2 linked regions of the Homo sapiens genome follow. The protein of the gene in region 1 purifies or fractionates together with the protein of each later gene. This does not show direct contact. Each region holds a gene or a part of one and is shown on either strand. Other genes may lie near its edges.

Region 1 (3,500 bases):
ATCTTAAGATCGTACTGTTCCTCTGTTGAAGCCATTCCTGGGGTTAATTTGGAAGGCTTACTCTGGCTTTAAGTAAAGGGATAACTGTGATTTAAAATTTTCTGATTTAATCTTCCTTAGGAGAAGACACCTGATGATAGAGCATTATATATTAATGGAAATAAATCATAAAGTAGTGGGGAAAAAAGCAAAGTATGGAAACATGAATGGTATTCTATCATTTATGTTAATAAAATGTATATATAGTTACTGACTTACATATGTTTAGCAACTGGGAAAAGGCTATGGCAGAGTATGTTAATGGCCTCAATTCTTCCCCCTTCCCTATAGCCATGTATTAATATTTTGCAGTGCCCTTCCATTGTGACACTGGATTCAACAATATGACTTGATTTTGCCAATGATATTAGCAAATGTGATGCATGGAGAGGTTTGAACAGTACTTATGTGACTGGGTTTGCTTACTTTTGCCCTCTGAAACTGCCAGAAGAAGGATATCTTTCAGATGATAAGAGACATGCAGGACAGAGCCAGATCACCCCAGTGGAGCAGATGAGACCATCCTAGATTAGCTGACAGCCAGCTAACTGCCAGACATGTGAGCAGGCCTAGCCTGAGGTCTGCAGAGCTGTTGAATGCAGATGTATAAATAGGGCCTGCCCACCCCAAGTAAGCTGTGCCCCATATACTTATGTGCTAAACATAAGTTTATCACTATATGCCACCAACGTTTTGTGGCTATTTATTATACCACATTATTATGGCAATAGATAACTGATATAGAAGGGTGAACCTCTGGGAAGCAGAATTAGGTAACTGTGGAATTACAAAAGCAAGAGATATTTACTTTTTGAGCACAGACATGATGCTAAAAGGAAATGCTCATTGGAGCATTTCATATTTCAGATTTTCAGATTAGGGATGTTCAACTGTTAAGTATAATGCAAATATTCCAAAATCCAGAAAAATCTGAAATCCAAAACACTCTGGTCCCAAGCATTTTGGATAAGGGATATTCAGTCTGTAGAAGTGATTTAAAAGCCTGGGCAATATGTGTATATGGTAGCTCTAGGAGGAGAACAGGATATATAAAACCAGCTATAATATCAGATGATGAATGCTATAATAGAGGCCTCACCAGAATATTCAGGGAGTAAAGAATAGAAAAAAGAATTTCTGACAGGGTATGGAATATTGAAAGAATGTGACTTAGGGGAAAGTACACTTGAATTAGACTAAAATCATGAAAAGGAATTTATCAGGCAGAGAAAGGAAGGTATCCGGCATCATAAATCAAGCAAACAACATGAGGAAAGGTATTTAAGAGCACACACAATGGCGATAAAGACAGGCAAAGCTGAACTATAGAATATGGGTTGTGGGTAAAATTGTGAGAGGAGATGAGGTTAGAAAGATGCATTATATGGGATAGAAAATGGCCTTCAACTCTAGGCTTAGACGTTAGACTTGACTTTATGGAAAACTGAGAGGCATCAAGGCTTTTATTTCATTGTTATGGTGTTAGATCTGTATTTATAGAAAATATTAAGATTCAGGATGGAAATGGTAAGAATATGTTGCAAGGTTGTGGCCATTTAAGTTGGGAAGTTTAATGGTAGTTAAACTGATACAATGTTGACTTTAGTGGTGTAATTTAAGTTTTATATGATTTTTGCCCAATGCTAATTGAATTATTAAGGTCTGAGATCACTTGGAAGTTTTTCAGTTACACTTTATTGGGTGAAAATGCATTTATTCAATTCATTCCAATATTATGTGTCTACTAGGTGTCTGGAATAAAGGAACGGTCCCTAACTTTATGGTATTTACCATGGGAAAGACAGACCTTAATAAAATATTCACATAAAATGATGTTACAGAATTGAGAATTTGAAGAGTTACAAAGATCATGGCATTTATTCTTTGTCAATGTCTAATGCCAAATGTATATCTTTTTACTCCTTACTGTAGCATCTGGTAATTTGGTTTGTTGAGTCTTCAGTGCAGAAGACTGAAAGTCTGAAAATTTCTAATTATGAATTTGTATTGGATTCCATTATTATTAAACATGTAGCTTCTCATGGCCTTAGGTTTATAGGCAAAAATTGTTCTGCAAATATGCGTTCTGCACTTTAATGCTATTGAGAAACCATGGAGATACAGTTGGCTTTTTTTGTTTTTTGTTTTCTTGATCACTACAGGCAATCTCTCACATACCCAAAGCCACAGGTGGAGTATTTCTCCATCAATTGTATTCTTCTCCCCATAATTGGTGCTTAGGATTTACCTCCTGGTCTTATGCCACCATGAACTGTCTTTATCCTTAATGCATAGCACAGTGCCTGGCCCACTGTCAGTGCTCCATAAATGTTTTCTGGGCAAATAAATATATTCTCCCCTCCTATATCCCCTTTCACTTCATCAAGCCATGGTAAGGACAGGGAAAGGAACACAGAAGGGAAAATACACTCTTTCTTCTTGTCCCCCAAACCACCCCTGTTCCCAGGATGTATATGCATTACCCTGTGTTCCCAGCCAGTCCTCCCATCTCTTCCTATCTCCTCTCCCAAACTGCTACAGATTACAGACACTTCTTATTTTTAAAATGCCTAGAAGACTTAGAAGTCTGGACTTACCACAAAATTATGAACGCATCTTCAATGTTTTGTTTACCTGATTTATTCGATTAAATGCAAATTTGGTGTCATCTGATATCCTAGCAGGGAACAAATACTTGATAGACATCTGACAAATTAAATGGAATAAACTATTTAAAATGATCTTTACTGAAGCACTGCAGTACAGTGAATAACGTTCAAATCCTGTGGCCTCTCTAAGTGTTAATGACCATAGTACTCCTCTTATAGGTGTTATGATTATACAAGGTAACGCATATAAAAAGCTTAGCGCAGTACCTGGCCCATAGCAATCATTACATAAATATCAATGAGCAGGTATTATTAGTAAAGTAGTATTAGTAAATTGAATATCTTCATTTCATAGAGGAAATAGACCCAACAAAATAAAATATTGACTTCATATGTTAATAGTCAGTAGACAGTTGAAAATACTAGAAGAAATATTCAAGAAAATCCAGGACAGACTGTGACCAGTGGTGACCTCCCATTTGTGTACTGAAGCCCATCTCTAGATACCACCAGGGGTGTCCCCCTGAACATCCCAACAACAGCTCAAAAGCAACATTAAAGATTGGATTTAGATTTCCAGGGTGATATGAAACAGGCCAATTTATGATTAATTACCAAATTGACTCCAAACATTTGGCATTGGGAGATGATATATAAAAGGGGATAAAGAGAAAGACATGGCCAGCTACAAATACAAGACAAAAATCTCAGTGGACCAGAAACACAAACACAGAGTAGTTAGTGGAGTTGATGACTTGACTGCAGAAACAGTCAAAGACATCCTAGAATTCAACTCCTGGGGGATTAAATGTGGTGTGTCTCAGGTTGTAGGGAACCAGGCTCACTGTTTCA
Region 2 (3,500 bases), on another chromosome or scaffold:
TTTTTTTTCCCATTGTTTTCTGGAGTTTCTACAAAAAGATTATTTGCCCCTTAGAGATTTCCAATGTTTTCTGTATAGTAATTTAATATTTATTATTGTCTTGTTCTAGGAATTATTTCTTTTTCTTTTGGTTCATTCTTTTTATCTAAAAGTCTTTCTTTAGTTTCTAATTACTTCATATTTCTTATTTACTAATAATAGTAATGTATTATTTCTTCTAATAGTTCTTCTGGTTATATGCCTTCTCTGTTCAATTCCTTTTTTTTTTTTCTTGCTCTGTCGCCCAGCCTGGAGTACAGTGGCGCAATCTCGGCTCACGGCAACCTCCGCCTCCCAGGTTCAAGCGATTCTCCTGCCTCAGCCTCCCGAGTAGCTGGGACTACAGGCGCCTGCCACCAATCCTTTTTTTTTTTTTTTTTTAATGTTTTGCTTTTAGCTATTTTCTGCTTTCCTATCAGTCCACCAAGTTTACTTAGACTTTTTTTCTTCTTCTCAAGATATTTATTGTGGTACAATACTTTGTGGGAAAACTTCATAATTTTCACAGGACTTTCTCTTTTTTCCCACTAGTTTTCTTTTACTGCTCTAGGGCATGATCCACATGACAAACTATGATTAATGCCATCCATCTTCCTGGCCCTCCTCAGTACTTAAAATATTCAGACTTTTAATTTTTTTTTTTTTTTTTTTTAGAGATGGAGTCTCATGATATTTCCCAGGCTGAAGTGGCTCTTCACAGGTGCAATCATAGCACACCACAGCCTTGCACTCCTGAACTTAAGCAATCCTCCTGCCTCAGCCTCCTCAGTAGCTGGAACTACAAGCATGCACCACTGTGTCTGGCAAGAATTTTTATTTTATGCCTCACCCTTTAATGACTTCTAATTTCATAAGATAAAATCCACATGCTTTATTATTCGTGGTGCTTAAGGCCCTGGAAGGTCTGGCTCCTGCTGCTTCTTCCCTGTGCTACTTTCCCCTTTGCTGCTACACAGCAGGTGCACTGGGCTTCCTTGTTTCTGGACTCACAAAGCCCCTTCCCACTGCAAAATCTTCAAACATACTTTCCTTACCCCCGTTTGTCACCTGGGATTCCTTCTCATATTTCAGTTTTCTTTTCTTTTCTTTTCTTTTCTTTTGAGACAGGGTCTTGCTTTCTTGACCAGGGTGGAGTGCAGTGGTGCTATCACAGCTCACTGCAGCCTCAACCTCCTGGGGGCTCAATTGATTCTCCTGCCTCAGCCTCCTGAGTAGCTGGGACCTTAGGTGTGAGGCATCACGCCTGGCTAATTTTTTTTTTTTTTTTTCTGTATCCCCAGTAGAATGACTACTGGCTATTTTTTGTTTTGTTTTGTTTTTTTTACTTTTCGTGGAAACATGGTCTCACTATGTTGCCCAGGTGGGGCTCCAACTCCTGAGCTCAAGCGATCCTCCCACCTTGGCCTCCCAAAGTGCAGGGATTATGGGTGTGAGCCATTGCGCCCGGCCATACTTCAGTTTTGAATTTAAATTGTCATCTTACAGAGATATGATCTTTGAGCATCTATGGGTCTCTCCCTCCAAACACAGCATGCCGTTTATTCCTTCATAGTGCTTATTCCAATTTACAATCATTTGCTTGTTTACTTGTTCATTATTTGTTTTTTCTACTGGACTGTAAGAGATGAGGGGGAGCCATACATGCTTGTTCATCACTGTATCCCCAGCAACTAATATATCACTTGGCATTTAATGCAGGCTCAATAAATACATGAATCAATGTCAGGACTGAATGGCCAAATAAACAAGGAAGAAGATACATTCAGCCACAGCATGCATGACATCTGTTATTTCTACTAAGTACGGTATTCAACTTAGCATAATGCCCAGGATGGTGTGAAGTATACCTTCTAACCTAACAGGATGACTCCATCTAATAAGTGATGAGCATGTGCTGTCCTTTTTAGTGTTACAGACCCTGGAGATCAAGAAAGCAGTTGCTCTTCTCTAACATAGGCCTTCCTTGTGGCAAATTACCATTACTAGCTGCATGAAACTGAATTGGAACTAGAAAACAATTTTTTCTGCCATGCCTTCAATTCAGGTGAGTGTGTGTTCCCTGGGAAAGTCTTTGTTTTACCTTTCTTCTGTCCTCTCATGAACTTCATCAACAATGATATGGGAAACTCCTTGTAGAGCTGTATCTCCTTCTAGCCTTCTCAGCAGCACTCCCGTGGTGCAGTATAACAGTCTGGTGGCTGAGGACTTACACATGAAAGGGCAATATAAATCATTAATAAAATTTTCAAAAAAAGGAAACATTACTGGAAAGCCATTTTGAATGGATAGTGATAAAAAATATTGGAAACACCAGCAGTTCCATTTAATAGGAAACCATACTAAACATAGTTTCTTGCCAGGGACAGTAATAAAAGCCTTTCTACTTCATATCACAATGTTAAGATTTTCATAAAAAGCATTAAAAAACAGTGAATAATGAAAACAGTTCTCAATCTGTCTGCTCCTTATTTGGTTAAATGGATTATGTCCCAAGTTCAAGAGCAAAACAGTCTTTACTAGATGACTTCTGCCAATAAAAAATAAAAAGCTTTACAGAGGAAATTTAGTACAACCAAATAAGAGTTTTTTTTTTTTTTTTTTTTTTGAGACAGAATTTTGCTCTTTTTGCCCAGGCTGGAGTGCAATGGCGCAATCTCGGCTCATTGCAACTTCCGTCTCCCAGGTTCAAGGGATTCTCCTGCCTCAGACTCCCGAGTAGCTGGGATTACAGGCGTGTGCCACCACACTTGGCTAATTTTTGTATTTTTAGTAGAGATGGGGTTTCTCCATGTTGGTCAGGCTGGTCTCGAACTCCCGACCTCAGGTGATCCACCTGCCTTGGCCTCTCAAAGTGCTGGGATTACAGGTGTGAGCCACCGCGCCTGGCCATAAGAGTTCTTATACCAAAATATTTCTAAATATTTCTAAATATTTAAATAAATGATTACCAAAGGTAATCATTAATTTAAAAATAACCTGAAAGTATATATCCCAAATTGCCCATGAATCTCCTAACCCCCAAAACTTTTTATACCTAAAAACCATAAATTTCTGTTACCAGGAAATAAGCAGAGCATACAAACCTTGACACTTTCTAACCGAATCTGGTATCCCACGGTCAGACCCACCCTCTCTGCTCTTTCTTTAGCAACGCGTTCAGCAACAGAGATTGCAGAGATTCGTCGGGGTTGGGTACAGATGATGTTGGCTACCTTCTCAGGTGGTCCATTCAGAGAATCATCCAGAATAAACTGCGGAATTTGTGTGGTTTTCCCACATCTGTACATTAAAACAAATAAGTCCTAAAATGAAGTTTTCAAGGGCTAGTTAACTAAAGAAGCAATCATATGGAATGAGAAAAGTGATAAAGCTAATTAGAATAAAAGTTGTTCAGTTTCAGGTATTTTCTAAAACAACCTCCTGACTTATTACCAAGAGGTGGGAAATTCTAGGAATTTGCA

What was found.
Region 2: the proteins of ZSCAN31 (region 1) and DHX57 purify together in Homo sapiens (affinity purification with mass spectrometry; 2 studies listed by BioGRID and IntAct, with this or other methods). This does not show direct contact.

Annotation. Positions count from the first base shown.
Region 1 is NC_000006.12:28,329,649-28,333,148, forward strand, and holds part of ZSCAN31 (zinc finger and SCAN domain-containing protein 31), read right to left. Parts: intron 2,746-3,500; exon of another isoform or gene 2,637-2,745; intron 131-2,636; 5' UTR 36-130; coding exon 1-35.
Region 2 is NC_000002.12:38,851,935-38,855,434, forward strand, and holds part of DHX57 (putative ATP-dependent RNA helicase DHX57), read right to left. Parts: intron 3,319-3,500; coding exon 3,123-3,318; intron 2,245-3,122; coding exon 2,120-2,244; intron 2,032-2,119; exon of another isoform or gene 1,947-2,031; intron 1-1,946. UniProt on the Homo sapiens protein: Probable ATP-binding RNA helicase.